Linked DNA regions of Homo sapiens: region 2 is linked to region 1. A link means that fine-mapping ties the variant in region 1 to the expression of a gene that starts in the linked region. Tissue or cell type: whole blood. Region 1 holds a variant in brackets; the other region holds the start of a gene. All regions are shown on one strand. Distances are from middle to middle.

Region 1 (8,176 bases):
GGAAGAGTCCTCCCTTTCACGGTGGGGGACCCTGGGACCAGGCAACCAAGGTCACAAAGTCTGTAGAAGCCCGAGTGTCTAAGCCTTAGAACCCCGATCCCAATGAGACCTTTGCTGGGGTCTCACCATCAGGGCTCTTGAAATTCAAAGCCACACCCTCTCAGCATCCGCCGAGATGTTAGGATGGAAAGAGGTACCCCTTGCTGCCACTTCACCCCTATGTCCCATCTATCTGCCCCAAAACCAGCCAGTTGGTGTCCCCATAACTCTGCTGCAGGACCACTCCAGCCTTCCCGAGCCTTCTGCCCTTCCTCCCGGGCCACAGCCCACAGGCCCCAGGAGCTGGTTTTGGGGGCACACGCTCTTCCAGCTCCCAGCATCTCCCCTCTCCTCCCCAAGTCTCAAGCCTCCCTGCCCCAACTCAGGATGGAGGTCCTGGACCCACAGCCAGGGAGAGCCAGGTGGGGCAGCCTGCACAGGAGGTCCGGGCACTTTCTGACTCTGGGCTCCAGAAGCCAAGGCCTCCCTCAAGGAAACAGAAAGGACTGGGGGCACAGTTCACATGATCATGAAGATAAGGGTTCCCGCAGCACACCCCATAAGAACCGTGGCACTGGCCTTTACACCCTGAGGTCCTACTTCACCCCTGGAGCCACGGCTGAGGGCAGGGCGCTGAGGGGCTGTGCCTGGGGACTTGTGCTGCTGAGACCTCCACTGGTGACACAGGGGCTCAGCACCCCTGGTGAAGCAAGCAGGGTCCCAGCAGAGAAAGGAACCTGCAGGATAGGGGTGTGGTGTGTGTGGTGTGTGTGTATGTGTGTGTGCACATGTTTACACGTGGATATGCATGTACGTGTGTTGTATAGCCAATTCCTTGCAATAAATCTCTCTATGAGACACATAAGAGATATTACATATACATGGAGGGGATGAGACAGAGAAAGGAAGGGAGGGAGGGAGAGATTTATTGTGAAAAATTGGCTCAGACAAGGTGGGGGCTGGCTGAGCAAGGTGGAAATCCATAGGGCAGGCGGCACCTGGGCCTCTCGGGCAGTAGGCGATGCTATAGTCCACAGGTAAAATCTCTCTGTCCTCAGGGAAACCCCAGCTCTGCTCTCAAGGCATTTCACTGGTTGCACAAGGCTTCCCACCCCTACCCCCGCCACATGATTGAGAGTAATGGCCTTTCACTCCAGTCAGCTGACTGCAGATGTGACATACTTACAGAACACCTTCACAGTAACCCCTAGATGACTATTTGGTTGACCCAAGAAACTATCATGCTTAGGGGCTGAGAGCTGCTGAAGTCCTGGCAGGGAGGGGTGAGGACCGGTGCTGCCGCCCTGGTGACCGGCGTTTCCAGGAGCCACCAGCCTCACCCACCATTTCCCGAGTTGGTCCCTCATCCCCTTGGCTTCCTGCGGCGGCCGAGGTGGGGTCCGGGGCTGCTGAGGTAGGGTCCAGGGCTGCTTGCTGAGCAGGGCTACCTGGTCCCCAGGGCTTCACCTGGAAGGCCTCCCACTAAGGCCCAGGACTGAGGCATCCTCAGGGCCCGTTCCACCGCCTCTGATGGAGCCTGGGGCTGAGCTGATGGGTGCTCGGACTCTACCCGACACTGCTCTTGTGCAGTGGCCGTCAGGGCTACCTGGACACAGCCTGGCTGCTGCCTCCACAGACCGCTCATGCCCAGACACGAGGGAGAGCCGCCTGTAGGTCTTCAGCTGCGAGCTCTGCCTCCAGCACTTCAACGGAAGGGAATGGGCCCAGGGAATAGGACGTGGGCTTGGCGCATGACTTGAAGTGCTTTCCACCCTACCAGATGCCCTGAAGATAAGAGCCGGCCCAGAACTCCGTGTCTCCGTGACAAAATGCTTCTGATCACCTAATCTGAGCGGCTGATCTCAAGTCTCTGCAGGGTTGTCACGTGTCAGGGGAGGAGAATCCAGGTGTGCTGGATCCAGCTCGCCCGCTCCTGGACAGATGGTGCACATTTCTTCTCAATCTCGTGTTCAGCCATGTCATGTTGGTAGCTTGAAATCAGCCATGATGAGAATATTTACACCACAGATGTTGACGAACACTTCACATGAGCTCCCCTCAATCCCCTGCGAGAGCTGCTTGTTAAACATTTACCTGCACACCACAGGAGAAGCCCCAGAGGATAAAGCTGGGATGGGGAGGAGGGAGGTTGGGGAGGAGGGAGGTTCAGGTATCTATTTTTTTTTTTTTTTTTTGAGACAGAGTCTCGCTCTGTCCCCAGGCTGGACTGCAGTGGCACGATCTCGGCTCACTACAAGCTCTGCCTCCTGGGTTCACACCATTTTCCTGCCTCAGCCTCACAAGTAGCTGGGACTACAGGCGTCCGCCACCACGCCCAGCTAATTTTCTGTCTTTTTAGTAGAGACGGGGTTAGCCAGGATGGTCTTGATCTTCTGACCTCATGATCCACCTGCCTTGGCCTCCCAAAGTGCTGGGATTACAGGTGTGAGCCACCGCACCCAGCCGGGTTCAGGTATCCATTACTAAGTAACAGCCCACCTCAAAACTTAGTGGCTTAGCCGGGTGCAGTGGCTCACGCCTATAATCCCAGCACTTTGGGAAGCTGAGGCGGGTGGATGGCCTGAGGTCAGGAGTTCGAGACTAGCCTGGCCAACATGGTGAAACTCCATCTCTACCAAAAATACAAAAATTAGCCAGGCTTGTGGTGGTGGGTGCCTGTAATCCCAGCTACCTGGGAGGCTGAGGCAGAAGAATGGTTTGAACCCAGGAGGCGGAGGTTGCAGTGAGCCGAGATCGCGCCACTGCACTCCAGCCTGGGTGACAGAGCGAGACTCTGTCTCAAAAAAAAAAAAACTTAGTGGCTTAAGATGACGGTGATTGATTCCTCCTCACGAGTGTGCGTGTCACTGGGGTGGTTCTGCTGCTGCATGTGGTATTGAGGAAGGTCACTCTTGCAGCTGCGTGCATGGCTTTTCCCTCCAGTAGGATGGCCTGAGCTCTCCACAGCGTGGCAGCTTCCCAGAGACCAGGAAGCTGCCAGGCCTCCCCCACATTCTATCCGCCAAATGGGTCTCAAGGCCTGTCCAGATCTGGTGTGGGAGGGAACTACAGAAGATCATCAATAGCAGGGGATTCACTGGGGCCCATCAAGGCAGCAGTCTTCCAGCTGGGTGGGCTGGCTCATCCCTGGAATCCCAGGATTTAAGGAGGCCAAGGTTGGAGGACCACTCGAGGCCAGGAGTTTGAGACCAGCCTGGCAACATAGCGATGACAGCCTGTCTCTACAAAAAATTAAAAAATTAGCCAAGCATGGTGGGGCATGCCTGCAGTCCCAGCTACTCAGGAGGTGGGAGGATTGCTTGAGCCCAGGAGGTTGGGGCTGTAGTGAGCTATGATTGCACCGCTGCACTCCAGCTTGAGTGACAGAGTGAGACCCTGTCCCCCAACACCCCCGCCCCCCCAAAAAATAGGCCCCGCAGTGTGGCCTGGTGAACTTGGCCTCCTTGAATGTGTCCTATATAAAGGTGTGTGTTGAGCTTCCCCTTGGGGCAAGGCACAAGCCCCTCGCCCACCCACGTGGTCTAACTGGACGCTCACAGCAGCCTCGAGAGGCGGTCCTGCCCGTCCCGGTTTCCAGGTGGAGCAGCTGAGGAAAGCCTGAGACGCTTGCCCCAGGTCTCCCGGGTTCTCAGCGGCCACCCGTTGTCCTGGGAGGTTGAGAATTCCTGTTCTAGGTGCCCCTTTGCTGGGACACAGCATCTCTAAAGGGGGAGACAGCCATCTTGAGGTCCTCCCTGTATTATGAGAAGAGGAA[G/A]CTCTCGCTGAAGAAAGGGAAGGCAGATCCTTCCTCCCCCAAGTCCACATCGTTTTCCTTCCTCTTAGGAGGTCTGCCTCTAGCTCTTATCTCCCCACTCCCCACGTGCACAGAGTCGCAGGGTGAGGGCTGAGCTGTGACGCCAGTGAGGCCAAGATGTCAGCCTAGGGTTGAGGACCCTGGCTGGGCGGGTCCTGCTGGGAGCTGAGGCTGCAAGACCCCGGCTTGGCCGTACCCCGAGAAGCAGCCACTGCACTGACATGGACGAACTGTGCCGTGTGGAACCCACTTGCCCCACCTAGATCTCAGCTTCCCTGCCGCCAAGCGAGAAAACAGAACTGACAGGTCTCTGATGGCCATCTCATCTCCATGCCAGGTGTTCTAGAAAGAGTTCAGAGACCCAAGTGTCCATCCACACTTGTCCACGTCTTGGTTCCAGGAGTGTCTGTCAGGGATGTTCCCCCTGACCCTGGATATTCCTTCTCCTCTGTGAAAGTACGGTCACGTATGGTGCAAGTATGGGCATGTGTGATGCAAGGGACGCTGCTGGGCAGCTGCCTGTGCAGGCACCGGGGACAGGAAGGTGGATAGGGCATAATTTGTGGGGGAAAAGGCATGTAAACATGTATTACAACATAAGAGAGTACGTGTAGCGGGAATGTAAATTTGTACAACCTTCTAGAAAAGTCATTTGGCAATACAGATCAGGAACTTCCCAGATGTTCCCAAATATCTTCGGAAACAATTATCCCATTTCTGGGAATCTAACTTAAGAGAGTAACCAGAACAAGGGAGAACAAGATGCTTATTGCAGGATTAGTTAGAACTTGAAAATAACCTAAATGCCCAACAACAGAGAATCAGTTAATTGGATTATGTCACAGACAGTTAATATTTCACAGCTGTTAAAAATAGCTGCTACAAAGAATTTTCATAAAATGGTTTTTGAAATAACATTAACTGAAAAATGCAAAACAGAATTGAGGAGATGGAGCTCCACTTGGGAAAAAATAAGATAATTCAGAGAGAAGGAATTTACCAGAATACCAACAGCGATCACATTTGGGTAATAAATGACTTTAGAGGTGATTTTAAAATTATTTTGTTTCTCAATCATCTTTAAAAGCCCAGTGCAAAGAAATTTGCTGGCCAGGCACAGTGGCTCATGCCTGTAATCCCAGCACTTTGGGAGGTTGAGGCGGGCAGATCATCTGAGGTCAGGAGTTTGAGACCAGCCTGGCCAACATGGTAAAACCCTGTCTCTACCAAAAATACAAAAATTAGTCAGGTGTGATGGCATGTGTCTTTAGTCCCAACTACTTGGGAGGCTAAGGCAGGAGACTTGCTTGAACCCGGGAGGTGGAGGTTGCAGTGAGCCAAGATCACACCACTGCACTCCAGCCTGAGTGACAGAGTGAGACTGTCTCAAAAAAATTTTTCCTTCATGAAGTCTTTTACAGTTCCTCTAGGCAGAAGTGATCTGTCACTCTTTGATGCCTGGGACATTTGTGCCTCTCTTGTGGCATCTACCCTCTGTGCTGTGCTCATATGTCTGTGTCTTCACCCAGCTGAACCCCTTAGTGATATGGCTGTGCACATGTTTGGGTCCTAGTGTTTAACTCCAGGCCTGCCCACACTGTGCACCTATTGGCCATCTAGATGTGCACTTGGGTTCTGGCTGGCTCCTATACCCGTGGTTCTCTTTTACTTTTGAAGACTCCTTTTAATGTTAATATTTTTTCGTGGTAGCTATACCATCTATCAGTGGAAAATACTCAATGACAAAAGACACCTTGTCTTTGTCCCATGAATTCAACAGGGCTTCTTTTTTTGAGAAGGAGAGTCACTCTGTCACCCAGGCTGGAGTGCAGTGGCGCAATCTCAGCTCACTGCAACCTCCGCCTCCCTGGTTCAAACGATTCTCGTGCCTCAGCCTCCCGAGTAGCTGGGATTATAGGCACACACCACCATGCCCGGGTGATTTTTGTATTTTTAGTAGAGATGGGGTATTACCATGTTGGCCAGGCTGTTCTTGAACTCCTAACATCAGGTGATCCACCCACCTCGGTCTCCCAAAGTGCTGGGATTACAAGGGTGAACCACCATGCCCGGCTTCAACAGGGTTTCTTATGGGCTAGTTTTTCTCCAGTTACGACTCAAATTTTCTTGCTTTATTACATGTCTAATAATTTTTGATTGGATGCTGGACATTATGATACAACATTGTTGGGAATCTGAATTTTGTTGTTTTCTTTCAAAGATTAGTGAATTTTGTTTTGGCAATGAGTTAAATTATTGGTAGATGTTTTGCTCCTCAAGGCTTGTTTGTGGGCTCGTTGGGACAGGTCTAGAGCAGCCGTTACCCCAGGGTTAGTGTAGTACACCTGAGGCATGTGCTTTTCAAAAGGACAGAGATCAGGGCAGTGGTTACCAGGGGCTGGAGTGGAGGGAGGAAAGGATGACCAAAGGGCACAGAGAACATTGGGCAGTAGAAATGTTTTCTATCTTGATTGTGGTGGTGATTACATGACTGTATGCATGTGTCATAGAGTTGTACACCTAAAAATGGAGAATTTCACTGTATGTAAATGATACCTGAATAAATCTAACTTTTTTAAAAAAGGGTGGTTTTTCTGAGGTCTTGGCTGAATGTCTGGCATATTCGGTGTGGTCTCTTCACTCTGGCTGCCCAGAACTCCAAGGTCTCTGTGCCCGTGCATCCTCTGGCACCCCCTTCTGCTCCCAGCTCCCAGCAGCTCTCCTCTGCCAGACTTTGCCGTCTCATCCTGTGCACGTGCAGTTTAGTATTCACTCAAAGACTCAAGAGAGCTCCTCTGCAAACGTCTGAAGCTCCTTCCCTGCTCAACCCGCTCCTCTCTGGAACCCCACAAGTTCCAGTCCCCTCGGTGGTCCTGAACTCCAGTCTCTGCCTGCTCCGGCCCATGCCATCACCACTCTCTGAGCTCTACTTCCCTGTGCTGTGTTCAGAAAATGCCCCAAACACCTCCGGGCAGAGAGCCAGGGTGAAGCTGGAACTCCCTCATGTGTGTCCTTCTCTAGGGTCACAGCCCTGCCATGGCACCTATGCTTAAAAACAGTTGCTTCATATAATTTGTCTAGTTTTCTAGTTGTTTATGGGGGAAAGGTAAGTCTGCTATCTGTCACCGTCTTATGGCCGGACCCAGCAGTCCCAGCAGAGCTGTGGGAATTTAAAGTTGGTTTCACTCCTCCCACCTCATCTCCATAAGCTCTATGCTCAAGCGGCTCGAGCGATCCCCAGAGTAGCCATCCCATGCTTGGAGTGCCTGCTCTGGACTCTGTGCGCCCCTGACTCCTAGAACATTGACACCCACCCTCCCTCCTCCTACTCACCCTGCAGCTTCCACTTGGACTCCAGGAAGTCTTCCCTGGCCCTTATGCTGGGCCCAGGAGGGTCTGTGTGTGCCCGTAGCTCCCAGGCATCCCCGTAACCACTTATCGGTTGTGTCTTCCCGGAGCCCAAGGACTCTGAGTATGGGGCGGAGACCCTGCCCCTGCTACATCCTATTCCTTCGCCTTGGGCCTGGAGCACGTCCACGAACACGTGTTGAACACAGAGTAAAGTAGCACCTGTGCACACATGTACACCCATATACACACCTGTCCACCTGACCCGCCCATATGCACATCCATACACACGCCTACCCACCTGACCTGCCCATATGCACGCCGGTCCACCTGACTCGCCCGTACACACAGTGGTCCACCTGACTCACCCATACACACGCCTGTCCACCTGACTGCCCATACGCACGTCTGCCCACCTGACTCGCCCAAACGCACAGCCATACGCACGCCTGTCCACCTGACTCACCCATACGCACACCTGTCCACCTGACTCACCCATACGCACGCCTGCCCACCTGACCCACCCATACGCACGTCTGCCCACCTGACTCACCCATACGCACGTCTGTCCACCTGACCCACCCATACGCATGCCTGTCCACCTGACTCGCCCATATGCACACCCATACACACGCCTGCCCACCTGACTCACCCATAGGCACGCCTGCCCACCTGTCTCGCCCATACGCACACCCATAGGCATGCCTGCCCACCTGACCCGCCCATACGCACGCCTGCCCACCTGACCCGCCCATACACACGCCTGCCCACCTGACCCGCCCACACACACGCCTGTCCACGTGACACGCTGACACGCACGCCTGTCCACGTGAGCCGCCCATACGCACGCCTGTCCACCTGAATCACCCATATGCACACCCATATGCACGTCTGCCCACCTGACTCGCCCATACGCACACTCATACGCACACCTGTCCACCTGACCCACCCATATGCACGCCTGCCCACCTGACC
Region 2 (8,176 bases), 24 kb before region 1:
GTGCTGAGTAAACTGTCCGTGAGGTGTGTGTCCTGCAAAGTTTCAAAGTGTCCCAGAAGCTGCTCTTCTCCTTCTCTGCTGTCAGAAAGCCGGCAATCTGGAGTCTGGATGGTGGGAAAGCAGGCAGCAGGGCTCTCCCCAGTGTGTCGGATCACGCTAGTCCCCTTGGCCCTGCAGGGAGAGCTGGGCACTGGCTCCAAACCCAGCAAGCCCCTCTCCGCGCCCCCGCTCAGAGCTCTGGCCACTACGGCAGAGGACTGGAGAACATCCGTGGCTGTACATGCTTTGGAATCTGTTACTTGGGGAGAAACAGGTGTCCTTGTCGATGGCTCCACGAGATCAGGGCTCTGAGGAGGAGTTATGCACTAAAAAAAAAAGTACCATGTTAAAAGGTTGCTTTAAATTTTAAAAGGGATTTAATTCATCACAATGCTCCCAATACCTTTACACAGAATCATCTAGACACTCAGTTAACCCTGTTTTCAACATCCCAGTGGGTTTCAAGGCTGCATGAGGCACTCTGCTTTCTCAGCTTATTCCCAACGTGTTTACCTCTCCCAAACCTACACAAGAGCCCAGTGCAGGGAACTCTGAGAGGAGCTCCTGGCCGCCAGGCCCACCACTTCTGCAACCCTCCCGACAACCCACAGGCCCTTCCTATCCCTCTCCAAATCTGCTTTCTACACTCTTCTTTCAGAGCAAGCTTCCAGCCCAGGACAATCACAATTTCCACTTCTGTTAGCAACCTACAGTTCTCAGCTTCTCCAAGCTGAGATGCAATTTTTCCAAGTACTTTCACAGATGTAGCAAATTAAAAAAACAAAAAGCAAGAGTGACTTACTGCACCCAACTCACAGAACTCACATTAAGGAGTCGGCTGCCACGGGAGGGCAGAGGTGCCACCCAACGAAGGCAATCTGATGTCAAAGTACATGCTTTCTCCAGCTGCTACCGATATATTCTGACACTAGGCTGGAGAACCTAAGCTCCACCCCGAGATTCCCCTGGGGAAGTAAATTTCACTTTCTCACATTAATCTGTAGGTTTCATCCCACGGACATTAACCACGTAGCTAGCAAGGTATGATCCATCCATAGAAAGAGCACATTTTTCAGAAATGAAAGAAAAGTTTCTTTTTTTGTTCTTTTATTTTTTTTTGAGATGGGGTCTCGCGCTCTGTTGCCCAGGCTGGAGTGCAGTGGCACGATCTCGGCTCACTGCAACCTCCGCCTCCCGGGTTCAAGCGATTCTCCTACCTCAGACTCCTGAATAGCTGGGACTACAGGCGCCCGCCACCACACCCGGATAAATTTTGTACTTTTAGTAGAGATGAGGTTTCACCATGTTGGTCTGGCTGGTCTCGAACTCCTGACCTTGTGATCTGCCTGCCTGGCCCTCCCAAAGTGCTGGGATTACAGGCTTGAGCCACCATGCCTGGCCAAAGGAAGAGTTTCTACTCCTTCAGACCCACACAGAGAGGATACGCAACTTATTTGCCAGCATCCCAGGGAATCTTCTCACAAGTTCTTCAACACACTGAGTTCAGCTACTCTAGTCATTTCACAAAAACGCTCCTCCCTCCCACCTCCTCTTACCAGAGTCGATAAAGAATGGAAGTCTTTTGGTAGTTCAGGTGTGGCTGCATCCATATGCACAGTGGTGGTGACATCCCCAGAGTCAGAGACAGGCGTGAGGGGTCTTATCCGCAACAGGTCACCTTTCTGGGATCTTTGACCCCAGGAGCTCATACAAACAAGAGCCTCGACAGCTTCCATGTCTGTCTGCTCCAAGATGCTGCAAGTAGACCTTTCGCTGTCATGCCGCTTCCTCTCCAGGATGGACTCACATATGTCCATGATGTCAACCTAAAGGCGACACAACACAACGGCTTCTCAGTGCAGGGGAAATACAGAGGCCACCCATGATGGGCATGTGGATATGCATATCAGAAGCCTACAGTAGGCATGTAATGCACATGCAATAGTCTATAGCAACAAACACCGAGGTGTAGTAAAAGACATTCAAGGAATGCTCATGACAATTCGGCTTTTAAGCCAACATTTCACAGACAGAACTAAGCTGGCAAGCGTTGCCACCAAAAATCCTGACTCTTAAAAAGGGCTACTAAGTTCATATTTTTCTTGGGTAAATGATTAATAAAATTAACTCCTGAGGTTCAAGCCAAAAAGTGGCTGGGAGGAGGAGCAGCTGCCCAGGGAGGAGGAGCCAACACTGAGGCCATCTAGTCGGTCTGCCAGTGGCCGCGGCGCCCTGACCATGGCTCTCTGAGGCGGCAAAGCCGCCAAAGCAGTGTCCCTACAGATGCTCTCAGGGACTCTGGGGCCTTCCGCCTAGGCTTCCAGCACTCCACGCAGGTAGGGCCCATGGCGATTCCACCAGTTCCCTCCACAGATTCGGGAGTGGAAGTCATCTGTTACTGTCCCAAGGCTAGCAGGTGGTGACAAGAAGCCAACCTGCCGCGAACCCGGAGAGGATCTCTTTGCAGTTTTTTTTTTCTTTTTGAGATGGAGTCTCAGTTGCCCAGGCTGGAGTGCAGTGGCACAATCTCGGCTCACTGCAGTGCCCGCCACCACACTTGGGTAATTTTTGTATTTTTAGTAGAAAGAGAGTTTTGCTATGTTGGTCAAGCTGGCCTTGAACTGACCTCCCGGGTTCAAGCGATTCTCCTGCCTCAGCCTCCAGAGTAGCTGGGAGGCGTCCGCCACCACGCCCAGAAAATTTCGTATTTTTAGTAGAGACGGGGTTTCACCATGTTGGCCAGGCTGGTCTCCAACTCCTGACCTCAGGCGATCCACCCGCCTTGACCTCCCCAAGTGCTGGGATTACAGGCGCCCGGCCTTGTTTTTTTGAGACAGAGTCTTGCTCTGTTGCCCAGGCTGGAGTGCAGTGGCACCATCTCGGCTCACCACAACTTCTGCCTCCCAGGTTCAAGCGACTCTCCTGCCTCAGCCTCCCCAGTAGCTGGGATTACAGGCGCCCACCACCATGCTCAGCTGATTTTTGTATTTTTAGTAGAGAGCGGTTTTCCCCATGTTGGTCAAGCTGGTCTCGAAAGCCCGGCCTCAGGTGATCCGCCCACCTCGGTCTCCCAGAGTGCTGGGATTACAGACGTGAGCCACCGCACCAGACCCTCACCGTCTCTTTAATCTGGAGGGGAGGAGGGAAGAGGCTGGAATGAGCTGATCTCTTCCAAAAGAAAACTAAGCCGGGGGCGAGAGGGTGATATTACTCTGAGAAGAGTAATACCCCTCCCTCCCAGGGAGGTTACAGTGGGCCGAGATCGCGCGCCCACTGCACTCCGGCCTGGGCGATAGAGCGAGACTCCCTATCAAAAAAAAAAAAAAGGAAAGGAAACTTTAAATGTACGAAGATACACGTTTCCTCTCTATCTGCCATGCACCAAAGCATCAAAGCTTTCCGTCTGCCGAGGTTCCCCGAGATCAAACAAGACGAGGCCACCTCAAATCCCCGGCCTCTGTCCCGCAGGCTGCGCCACTAAACCCCCTGTGATGTCACAGAACCGGGCGCCGAGGCCGACTCACCACACGGGCGGGAAGGGGCTCGCCCGGCCCACAGTGCCCGCACACCACGAGGCCCGCGCTCTGCCCACGTCCACGGCTACCTCCCCGAAGCCCCCAGGTCGCGACGCTTAGGGCCCCCAACGCTCGCGTGCCGCGTTCCCGCCTCCAAGCGTTGCCCCGCCTCCAAGGCAGTGCGGCGCTCCCGCCTCCCGTCGTTGCCCCGGCCCCTAGACCTTGCCCGCCCCCAGGCCCGAGCGGCACTACCGCTAGCCGCTCTTAACCCGCCCGACGGCCGCGTGCCCCGCCCCCAAAACCGTGCCGCGTTCCCGCCAGCAGCTCTTGCCCCGCCCCCAAGGCCGCGTGCCGCGTTCCCGCCAGCCGCTCCCCCGCCCAACGGCCGTCCGGCTCACAGGACCGGGGTGACGTCATGGCTGGAAATAGCCGCGGGGCCAGCGGGGCGGGGCCGCCCAGGAAGCGCAAGACAAAGCTGCGCGGGGAACACGCCCCCTCCTCGCCCCCGCCGACCCGGGCGCGCCCGTCGCGGCCGCCGCCCCGCCCGGCTCCGGAGCCCGCCCAGGCCCCTACCGGCGCGGCCGCAGCGAAGCCCTGCACGCCCCACCTCCCGCATTTACAGGCGCGCGAGTGCCGCACCACTTCCCCCGCCTCGCCCCTCGCTCAGACGAGTAGTCCCGCCGCGGCAGCCCCACCACTCACTGCGCGCGCGTCGTCTGGGCCTGCGAAGTCCGGCGTGTGCATCGTGCAGGCCGGCCGGGAGCAACAAAGCGGCCGCGGGGCGTGAGCTCGGGCGCAGCAGCGGCCGCACGTGGGCTGCGGGCGGCGGCGGCGGCGGCAACCCGGAGCTCCTGCGGCCGGCACGCGCCTCGCCCGCCCGCGCGGCTCTGCCCCGGCGCGGCCCTCGCGGCGCGGGAGGGGCGGGGCGGCCGCGGAGGGAGCGGCTGGCGGGGCGGGGCGCGGAGGCGAACCAAAATACACCGCGCCCCTGCCGGGGCGGGGCCGGCCACCACCAGCCAATTCGTGCCCGGCCGGCCAATGAGCGCCGCGGGGGGCCGCGTGATCGGAGCCTGGCCGCGGCGTGATCGGGCAGGGCGGGACGCGGCACGTGTTTTGGTCGGAGCGAGGGGCGGGGCCTGAGGCCCTGGAAAGTAAGGGAAAGGTCGCAGCGGCGCCAGGGGCAAGCGGGGCGGAGGGGGCGGCGGGGGCGGAGGGGGCGGCGGGGGCGGAGGGGGCGGCGGGGCGGCGGGGGCGGCGGGGCGGAGGGGGCGGGGCGGCGGCTGGGGAAATCCCAGGGCCGGGGCCGGACTCGGTGCGGGGAGAGGGGACCACGCTTATAGGAACCTCCTGCAGCCCCACCGGCTGAATCCATCGGTAGCGGAGACCCACCTAGAGGCCTCAACCTGGCTTTTGTTTGGTTGTTTTTAACTTCTGTCATTCTCCCTTCGTCTCTTAGGAATGCGTCCTTGACCGGAGAGGTCGGAAAGCTGGCCGGTTCTAGGTGACATTCCTGCATCCGGTCATTTTTGCAGACAGCGGGAGTCAGAGCTTATTGGCCTGAGTGTCCCGCTGACGCCCCTCCTCTGGCGTCTCTGGGCCTCTTCCGCTCTGTTACGGGGTCAGGGGAAGCCGAAACGGGCAGTCACCCAGAAGGCGCCCGCTGAAACCCGCCCATTCTTCCCAGGCCCCGAGAAAACGCCGCCCCCTCCGGGAAGTCCTCGAGCCTGCAGGAGACATCTAGCCCGCTGTCCAGGGCACCTTTTTTTTTCTCCCTATATTTCGGTTGCTCGCGTCTCTTGGTGTGGTTTGCCCACGTCTGCAGCGCCAGGTTCGTGGAGAGCAGGAACCATGCTGTTTATTTTCGTCGCCGCAGCCTTCAGCTCAGCGAGGAGCCACCCCTCCTCCGTCTGTTCACTGCGCGCGCCTTTGCTGAGCTGTGATGCGGGTTGGCGCTCAGTGCAAGGGGCAGAGGCCGCAGTGAGGAATCCTCCTTTTTTAAAAGCTCCATCCAGGGAGCGGGAGCAGAGAGAGAATCCCGGCACCCCGGGGCTTTGCTCTGAGCGAGAGAATTCTGGTCTTAGGGGAACGGGCTGGGCCCCACCACTCACATGAGCAGGACTCTGGTCCCCACTTGTTCCTTCGGGGCCCACTCGGGTTGGGCAGAGGGGTTGACCAGGCTGAGGAGAGGGTGTTTGCTGAAATAGTAAGAGGGTTTAAGACGAAAGAACCGTGATAAACTGCTCGCATGAAGACCCCGGAGGCTCTGAGAGGGGCGCAGGGTGTTCTGTGTGTAAAAAGTTAAGTCTTAAGATACACACTGGAATATTCTCTTTTGCCTGGACTCCTGCATTCGCCTTATAACTGGTCTCCCTGCGTCCACTCCAGCTCCCAGAGCCTCTTCCCACTCAGCACCCCCAGGGGTCTTTAACCCTTTCAGTGGCTCCCACTGTACTCAGCGTAACGCTTCTGCTCCCCACTGTGGCTTGTGAGCTCCTGCAGGGACCCAGCCCCATGCCTCTCCCCACGCCCCGGAGGGACAGCCTGGGCCTCCTCTTGGGCGCCTGTCCCACCAGCCCCTCTGCCGTCTCCAGGTCCTCGCACTTGCTGTTCCCTAGAATGCTTTTCCCCCACATGCCCCCTTTACTCTCACCCGCAGTCCACCTGGAGAGGCCCCCTCTAGCGGACACACCCTCGGGGCCGACCTCCAGTCCCCTTCTGGCGGGCTTTCTTGTTTTCTTCCTCCACAACACTTTTCTTGAACTGCCCCTTTTCCATTACTTCAGTTATTTATCATCTGTCTCCCCACCAGAAGGACTCTCCCAAGGCCAGGGAGCCTGGCTGTTTAATAAGTCCACGTAGGTGAACGAGCGAATCGAAGGTATCCACCAGCCTCCCTGCTTGAACATCCCGTGAGCACCTCTAATTGTGTCCTTAAAAAAACTGAACTCAGGGCCGGGCGCGGTGGCTCACGCCTGTAATCCCAGCACTTTGGGAGGCCGAGGCGGGCGGATCACCTGAGGTCAGGAGTTGAAGACCAGCCCGGCCAACATGATGAAACCCCGTCTCTTCTAAAAATACAAAAATTAGCCTGGCACGGTGGCAGGCGCCTGTAATCCCAGCTACTCAGGAGACTAAGGCAGGAGAATCGCTTGAACCCAGGAGGCAGAGATTGCAGTGAGCCGAGATCGCACCACTGCACTCCAGCCTGGGCGTCAGAGACTCAGTCTCAAAAAAACAAACAAAAAACTGAACTCGGATTCCAGCCAAATCTGGATTTCTCACCTCCGTGAAGGGTACAACTGGAGACCCTGTTCCTTGATCTAGAAACCTGAGCGTCACCTTTACCTCCTCCCTTTCGCACAGTTGCTGTCTTCCGCCAATTACATGCCCTTCTTCCTTCTCAGTTCCTCTCAAACTCTTATGTCACCCACGCCAGCCCTTGTCCTGGCCACCACCTGCTCACCTGAATTGTTGCCACTGCCTCCCAACAGGTCTCCCTCCCTCCAGCCAGACGCCCTACAATCTGCCCTCACCTCACTGCCAGAATGATCTTCTGGAAGCAGAGGTGGAGCTGAACCTGTATTCAAGCCGTCAGTTGGAATCCAAACAGTTATAGGACTGACTTCAGGCTCCATGGCCAGGAACCCATGAGTCTTTGTAGCCAGGCTCCAGCCAGCACTTCCTGCATCATTTCTGACCAGTTTCCCAAATTGCTTTCCCTGCTGCCTTCCTGCCCCCACTGACCCAATACAGAACCCTGTACTCTCAAGGTCACGCCACTCTCTTCTGTTTCTAGACAGCATTCCTTCTGCGTGGAACATGCCAACCCTCGTCTGCTTTGACTTTGCAAAACTGCATGAGACCGCCGGGCGCGGTGGCTCACGCCTGTAATCCCAGCACTTCAAGAGGCCGAGGCAGACAGATCACCTGAGGTCAGGAGTTTGAGGCCAGCCTGGCCAGCATGGTGAAACCCCGTCTCTACTAAAAATACAAAAAATCAGCCAGTAATCCTAGCTACTCGGGAGGCTGAGGCAGGAGAATCGCTTGAACCCAGGAAGCAGAGGTTGCAGTGAGCCGAGGTCATGCCATTGCACTCCAGCCTGGGCTACAAGAGTGAAACTCCGTCTCAAAAAAGAAAAAAAAAAAGAAAAAAAGACTGCATATGACTCCCCAGTGAAGCCCTCCCTGATTGGCCTCTGCAGAAGGCAGCATGCCCGGGCTTTGGAGTCAGACCTGCATACAAATCCTTGTTTTGCCGGTGTGACCTTGCCAAGTCTTCTTTCCTGCAGGACAGAAGGCGGCAGCAGCTCTCCCTGAACTGGCACTCTGGCTTCTCTTGCCCCAGGGTCTGTTTCTGCTCCTTGGACAGCAGGCGCATGTGGGAACTGTGCCCTCTTCAGCCATGAGCCCCTGTTCTGCGCACATCTAGCCCATCTTCCAGATGGACAGACAGTCTGTGGTCGTCGCCAAACCCCTGAATCTGGCCCTGCCCGCAGTCAGAGGGATGGCAATTTGTAAGCTACAGACTATTGCGAATCATTCACTTGGAGACTGAACTAAGACTACTGGCACCAGGCTCCGTAGACCCTCGGGAAGAGCATGGTCTGGCAGGCAGACTGGAT

The links. PIP is the estimated chance that this variant, and not a neighbour inherited with it, causes the effect.
Region 2: KLF11 starts here. The variant in region 1 is fine-mapped to the expression of KLF11 in whole blood (TOPMed, PIP above 0.99). The same link has a PIP of 0.9 or more in blood mononuclear cells.

Annotation. Positions count from the first base shown.
Region 1 is chr2:10,015,594-10,023,769 of GRCh38, reverse strand. No RefSeq gene overlaps it. Among named protein-coding and RNA genes, the nearest start is that of KLF11-DT, 24 kb to the left of the region's middle. RefSeq lists an enhancer at 7,778-8,176. The variant G/A (reference allele first, on the strand shown) is at 3,815.
Region 2 is chr2:10,039,839-10,048,014 of GRCh38, reverse strand. KLF11 (KLF transcription factor 11) reads right to left here and starts at 4,465. Exons shown (of 4, transcript NM_003597.5): 1 at 4,257-4,465; 2 at 1,596-1,865; 3 at 1-365. The coding sequence starts at 4,298. It overlaps KLF11-DT (KLF11 divergent transcript), which reads left to right and starts at 4,614. Exons shown (of 3, transcript NR_135558.1): 1 at 4,614-4,705; 2 at 5,011-5,382; 3 at 6,364-6,462. RefSeq lists an enhancer at 1,809-2,548, silencers at 3,772-3,841, 3,882-3,931, 4,052-4,101, 4,392-4,621 and a promoter at 4,308-5,207.